Regions from separate parts of the Homo sapiens genome. Here region 1 is linked to region 2. The links come from fine-mapping of genetic effects on gene expression. Tissue or cell type: pancreas. Region 2 holds a variant in brackets; the other region holds the start of a gene. All regions are shown on one strand. Distances are from middle to middle.

What was found. PIP is the estimated chance that this variant, and not a neighbour inherited with it, causes the effect.
Region 1: MICALL2 starts here. The variant in region 2 is fine-mapped to the expression of MICALL2 in pancreas (GTEx, PIP above 0.99).

What each region holds. Positions count from the first base shown.
Region 1 is chr7:1,458,249-1,461,142 of GRCh38, forward strand. MICALL2 (MICAL like 2) reads right to left here and starts at 1,222. Exons shown (of 17, transcript NM_182924.4): 1 at 936-1,222. The coding sequence starts at 1,078. MICALL2-DT (MICALL2 divergent transcript) reads left to right here and starts at 1,671. Exons shown (of 2, transcript XR_001745046.2): 1 at 1,671-2,019. RefSeq lists enhancers at 1-621, 2,045-2,596, 2,597-2,894, 2,685-2,894 and a silencer at 995-1,714.
Region 2 is chr7:1,430,346-1,433,239 of GRCh38, forward strand. No RefSeq gene overlaps it. Among named protein-coding and RNA genes, the nearest start is that of MICALL2, 28 kb to the right of the region's middle. The variant A/G (reference allele first, on the strand shown) is at 1,363.

The sequences.
Region 1 (2,894 bases), 28 kb after region 2:
TCGGTTCTCTGGTCTGCACAGCTGCGGCCTGACAGAGGCCCCAGGTGCTGCCTGTGGCTCCTCCCAACCCCGAGACCTTCCCACCAAAAACACACTCAGGAGAACGCTTTGCCCAGAAGGTGCCTGGGCTGCAGGTGGCCGTTGAGGGCCCCCCTTCCTGAGCGTCTGGCCCCCAGCCCCGACACACAGATCTCTGTCCCAGCAAGCCTGGTCCCAGTCATTTAGCCAAAGAGCGTTTGCTGAGTGAATAAACAATGGAGCAGGTCCAGGCTCGGGCCAAGATTCAGCAACGGGCAGGGCCAGCTGCCCAGCTACACACGCCAAGACCCTCCTGGGGAGAGACAGCCTAGTCCTCAACCCCTGCCACCTCCTGCTGCTCCCAGAGATGGGGGCTGTTCTCCATCTCGGGCCCTATCACCCGGGGCCTCAGAGGCCCGGCTGGCAGCAGCACCTGGGGTCTGGGGGCTTCCTGCCCTGCACTGGCCGCTCCCCCACAGTGGCCCTGGCCACATCCCCCCAGGGGCCTGAACAGGCTGGGGGAGGGTCAGTGCCCATACGAGGGCTATCCAGGGACCCCATCTGGTGGCCAGGCCCCTGGGCAGTGAGAGCCTCGGAGGGCCCAAAGAGGCAGCTCTGCTGGCCTTTCCCAGGGACACAGAGGGGGACTGGACTGAAGCCAGGGCCCAGGAGCCGCCCTGAGTCACGTCTGACTCAGCCGGCGGGCGGGGGATGCCATGGCTCTGGCCCAGCTGCATTCGGTGTCCGGGCACACTGAGGCCACTGAGGACAGCCTCGGGGGGCTGCACGGTGGGCTGTGCCTGCCCAGTCCCACGCCTCGGCTCCCCATCCCCCAGCCGCCCGGGCCTCAGTTTCCCCGCCCGTGTCAGCGCGCAGCCGAACAGCAGAAGAATCAAAGGGCGCCAGGCAGGACTTACATGAGGTCGGGCCGGTGGCGGTGCAGGATGGCGCAGAAAGCCAGGCCGTCGCGGAACGACGTGGTCATGTTGCAGATATTCACGTCGCGGTAGCCCTCGCACTGCTGCCGGCACCACTGTTGCAGCGCCCTGATGGCCGCCATGTGGGCGGCGCGCCCGCCGCGCGGCGGAACCGCCCTCCGACACCTTCCCGCGGCTGTGCCGCGACCGCCCGGCCGGCGGGACAGACGCTGGGACCGCTACGGAACCGCCAGACCCACGGCGCCCAGCCCCAGCTGAGCCGGACTGAGGGCGACGAGTGCCGGGTCCCTAAGAGAAGCCGAGCCCGGCCCCGCCCCCGCCGGCCCCGCCTCCTTGTAGGCCCCGCCCCCAGCCGCCAAGTCCTGCCTCCGGATAGGCCCCGTCCTCACACCTCCCAGCCCCGGCATAGGCTCCCGCCCAGGCAGGCCCCACCTCCCGACAGGCCCCGCCCCCAGCCGCCGGGTCCTGCCTCCTGATAGGCCCCGTTCCCACGCCTCCTGGCCCCGGCACAGGCTCCCGCTCCAGGCAGGCCCCGACTCCGGACAGGCCCCGCCCCCAGCCTCCAGGTTTTGCCTCCCGAGAGGCCCCGCCCCACGCCGCCCGGCCCCAGTACGGGCTCGCGCCCTAGGCACGTCCCGCCTCCTGGTAAGTCCCGCCCCCACGCTGTCAGGTCCCGCCCGACAGGCCCCGCCCCACGCCGCCTGGCCCCTCCCCAGGCCCCGCCCCGCCGCTGAGGGCCGAGACCCCCAACCGGTGAAGGGGCGCGGTCTGCTTGGGGGTCCTGCCATTCTGGACCCCTGCGGAGACCTGGAATTTTCTTTTTCGCCGCCCCACCTCCCACCACCATCTCACCCCACCGCCATGGAGAAGAGGCAGGAAAGGCCGTTGACAAACGGGGACACTGAGGCTCGAACACCCTGCCCTGTCTAGGGCCTCAGCCCTCGGCAGCCCGGCCTCCCGGGGAGCAGGAGGCGCCTTGTGTTTCAGGGTTTCAAAGGACGTCCGCATCTGGTTTCTCTTTCCAGGCCGCTACATGCCAGCGGGGGTTCCAGGCAAGGCAGAGGTGAGGCCTGGGCATTGCCAGAGGAGAAACTGAGGCCAGGAAGGGGGCCGTGGAGCCGGAGTTGCACAGCTGGCCTGTGCTTTTCTTCTGGGGGCCTGTGGGCAGGATCTGTTCCTGGGGCAGGAGATTCCTCAGGCTGACTTGCAGGGTAGTTCCAATTTTCCACTTTGAGCTGTGACAGAAGAAATAAGGAAAGTCCCTCTGCTGGGGCCCTAAATTATCCCAGACTGGCCCCTGGCCCCGTTATCCTTGGGGAACCTTGTCTGTGGCCACGGGGGCTGGACGAGGGCGGAATCACTGACACCAGCCATGTGAGGGGGGCCTACCCTCCTGGCTGTGGGGCCAGGGCTTGTCTGGGCAGGGCCTGCAGGAAGGAAGGTGTTTTCCCGCAGTAGCCCCTGGCAGGGAGTCAGGGCAGCTTCTCTGTGCCCCTTGGGAGGAGGAGAAACTGAGGTCTTCCAACCCCAGCCAATGGTGCTGTTCCAGATCTTTTCTGAGGCTGGTCCCTGGTGAGACACCGTAGTGTTCATGGCCAGCTGCCTAAGTGTCAGTGAGGCCTGTGTGTAGGTGGTGAGCTCCCCGTCACCAGGGGCATGCAAGCAGCTGCTAGGCAGGGAGCCCTTGTGGCCTGGGAATGTGGCTGGCCCTAACCGCTGCTCCGCCACAGTCCCTGACCTGCGGATGTCAGGGGATATCGTGCCAGCACAGCCGGAGCCGGTCCTGGCACCGGGTTTTCTTGACTCCCAGGGCAACGGTTAGGAGAACCGGAAGAGCTGGAAAAGAAGGGAGAGATCAAGAAGCAGAAGCAGCGGGGCAGTGGGCGGGGGGAATTAGTGGGGGATGGGGGACACAGGGGTGGACAGGCGTTAGGGCCC
Region 2 (2,894 bases):
TGGGATGCCCGGAAAATCCCCCAAGAGACGTTGTGCTCTCTTCCCGAGTCCCTCCCTGTCCCTCCCCTGCTCAGCCCAAGTCTGGGTAGGGCAGGAGGTGCCTGGTGTGTGCCCGCTGGCAGTGGCTCCACTGCCCACCCCACGAGACCTGATTCAATCCTCCCACCCCGGGCAGGGCAGGGGCAGCCCCGGGGGTCCCACAAGTACGAAACCAGTCAGGCTCAAGCAGGTCTGTCTCCCTGGACCAGTGGACCAGGTAGCAACCCTGGGCCAGGTGCTAGCCCCCTTGACAGGTGAGAAGACTGAGTCCTGGAGTGGCGTTGAGCCCTGGTGTCATTCATTCATTCAACAAATCCTCATCAGGCTCCTGCCGTGTGTCAGGCACTGTTCTAGGCGCTGAGGATGGCGTGGCAGAAAGACGGAGGAGCCGGGACCTCCGGAGGATCCGTCACAGAGAGGAAGCCCAAACAAGCATCTAAACATAGGTGCGTTCCGAGTGTTGGCAATAAACCAGGGTGGCCGTGTGCTCACGCCTGTCATCCCAGCAGTTTGGGAGGCCAAGGCAGGAGGATTGCTTGAGGCCAGGAGTTCAACACCAGCCTGGGCAACATGGCAAAACCGTGTCTCCACAAAAAAAAACTTTAAAAATTAGCCGGGCGTGGTGGCGTGCGCCGGGTGTCCCAGCTACTCGGGAGGCTGAAGTGGGAGGATCACTTGAGCCCAGGAGGTCAAGGCTGCAGGGAGCCGTGATCACGCCACTGCACCCCAGTCTGGGCAACAGAGTGAGACCCTGTCTCTAAAAAGAAAGAAAGAAATCAGGGTGAGGGGCAGGAGCTTCTCCGAAAAGGGCAGTTAAGCAGAGATAGCAGGATGCCAGCTATGTGGAGTGCAGGGGCCCCAGGAGCAGGACCAGCAAATGCAAACGCCCGTGGCCAAGGCCCGGCAGCCGGAGCGGAGGGGGCAAGGGTGACAGAGGTGAGGCTGGAAGAACTCCTGGGAATCAGCCCAAGCCTGCCCTGGCTTCGCAAGGGGTGAACACAAGTCCCCACCAGCTGCCCCCACCCTCCCACAGACCAGTGCCCTGTAATGGCTGGGCTGGCCCCCTGTGCCCGGCCTGGAGGGGCCACTCAAGTCCAAGTCCAAATTCCAAGCATCCCAGTGGAGACTCTGCTTGGTCCAGCCTTGCCTCCCTCCTTGTCCCTCCTGACGCAGCCACACGGGGCCAGTGTCAGCTCCCCACCCCAGAGCTCACCAGAAGGACCACACCGGTCCCTGAGCCCAGAACACTCCTCAATCCAGCCCTTGCTCCCCAGACCTGAGGCTGTAGTATTGAGGCCAGTGCAGATACAGGGGCCGACGGGG[A/G]TGTGGGTCAGGGAACAGCTCTTCCCCTTCTCTGCGGCCCCACCCACCCCCATATCCATTCAGGAAGACTGGCTGTTCCTAGCCATGTCTGTAGAGAGAAAGCCTCTGATGTGCATGGACTGCCTGCCACGTGCACAGGCACGAGACGCTGGCCCGGAGTCTCTGGCAGGTGTGGGTGACGTCCAGCCAGGCCACTGGGGAACTGCGTGCCTCTGCCCTCCCTGAAAGTTGTGAGGGGTCATCTAGGGTGGGTGGGGCCCGGGCTGAAACTCTTCCACATTGGGGTTGGGGCAGCCTCTGCAGGAGCCGGGCGGCGGCGCAGCCAGCCCCACCTGTGCCCGAGTGGCTGCTCAGGGGTTCCCACGCCCATCCTCACAGCCTCCTGCAGCACAGGCAGCACAGGCATCACAGGGCCTGGCCAACGCCCATGGCCCCAGGGCTGCGTTCCTGCCTGTCTCTCCATGATGGTGTCACCGGGGTCTGCAGGTGCTGGGCCCCTGGTGGACAGCAAGGACATCCCGCAGGGCTGGCTTAGTGCCTGGCAGACCTGACCACTTGTTGCAGGGGCTCTGATCACTGAGCACCAACTGTGTGCCCAGCCTGGAGCGCACCTGGCACCCCAGGGCTGCTTCTGAGGTCCCCAGATGCAGGGGGCTGATGGTGGGGGCGGAAGCTTCCTGGCCCTGCGGTGGGACACCCCCAGGTGTGAGTCCACAGCAGGACCGAGCCCCAGGTGCCCACGCCCCTAACTTGCTGGACAACACTCCCTTCCCGTTCTGGTCTCAAAAATGCTACGCAGCCCCCTGCCCTGGCCCCGCCTCGCTTGCTGTGTGACGTGGGAGAGCCGTAGCCCTCTCCCAGCCTCAGTTTCCCTGTCTGAAAAACGGAGCTATTCCAGGCTCCCGGCTGCCCCTCTCCACTAAGTGGCTCTCTGCCTCCCCCTGGTGGTGAAGAGGCCACACTGCCGCGGGTCAGGCCTTACGACGTGAGCACGGGGCTGAGATCCCAGGGGGACCCACGGGGCTGAGATCCCAGGGGGACCCACAGGCTCAGCTCCGGGACCCGGTCCAGACCGCCCTCCACGGCGTCATGCTCCTAACACAGCAGAGGCCCTGGGGCTTCTGCTCAGAACCACCCCAGGCACCCAGTGCCTGAGGAACGAGGCCACCTCGCTGCACCTGGAAGGTCCCTGCCGGCCCAGGTCCTGACAGAGCCCCTCTCTCTCCATCACCCGCTCCGCCTCACCTGACCCTGACCCCGGCCCCGCCCCAACCTGCCCCACCACACATCTTCAAGCTCCCAAGATCACTGCCTATGCTGTTCCTGCAATAGGGCACACCCTGCCCATCCACCGAGAGACCCCTACTCCTCGACACCCAGGTGAGACCCCCCCCTGCAGAAGTCTCCTGGGGGCTCCAGGGTCCCACTGCTGCCAGCCACTGCCTCCCAGTCCTCGGAGGGCACAGGGAGTTTCCACCAACACACTCGGTCCCAGTGGCCTGACTCCAAGAGAGGCCTCAGGGCCAGGCAAA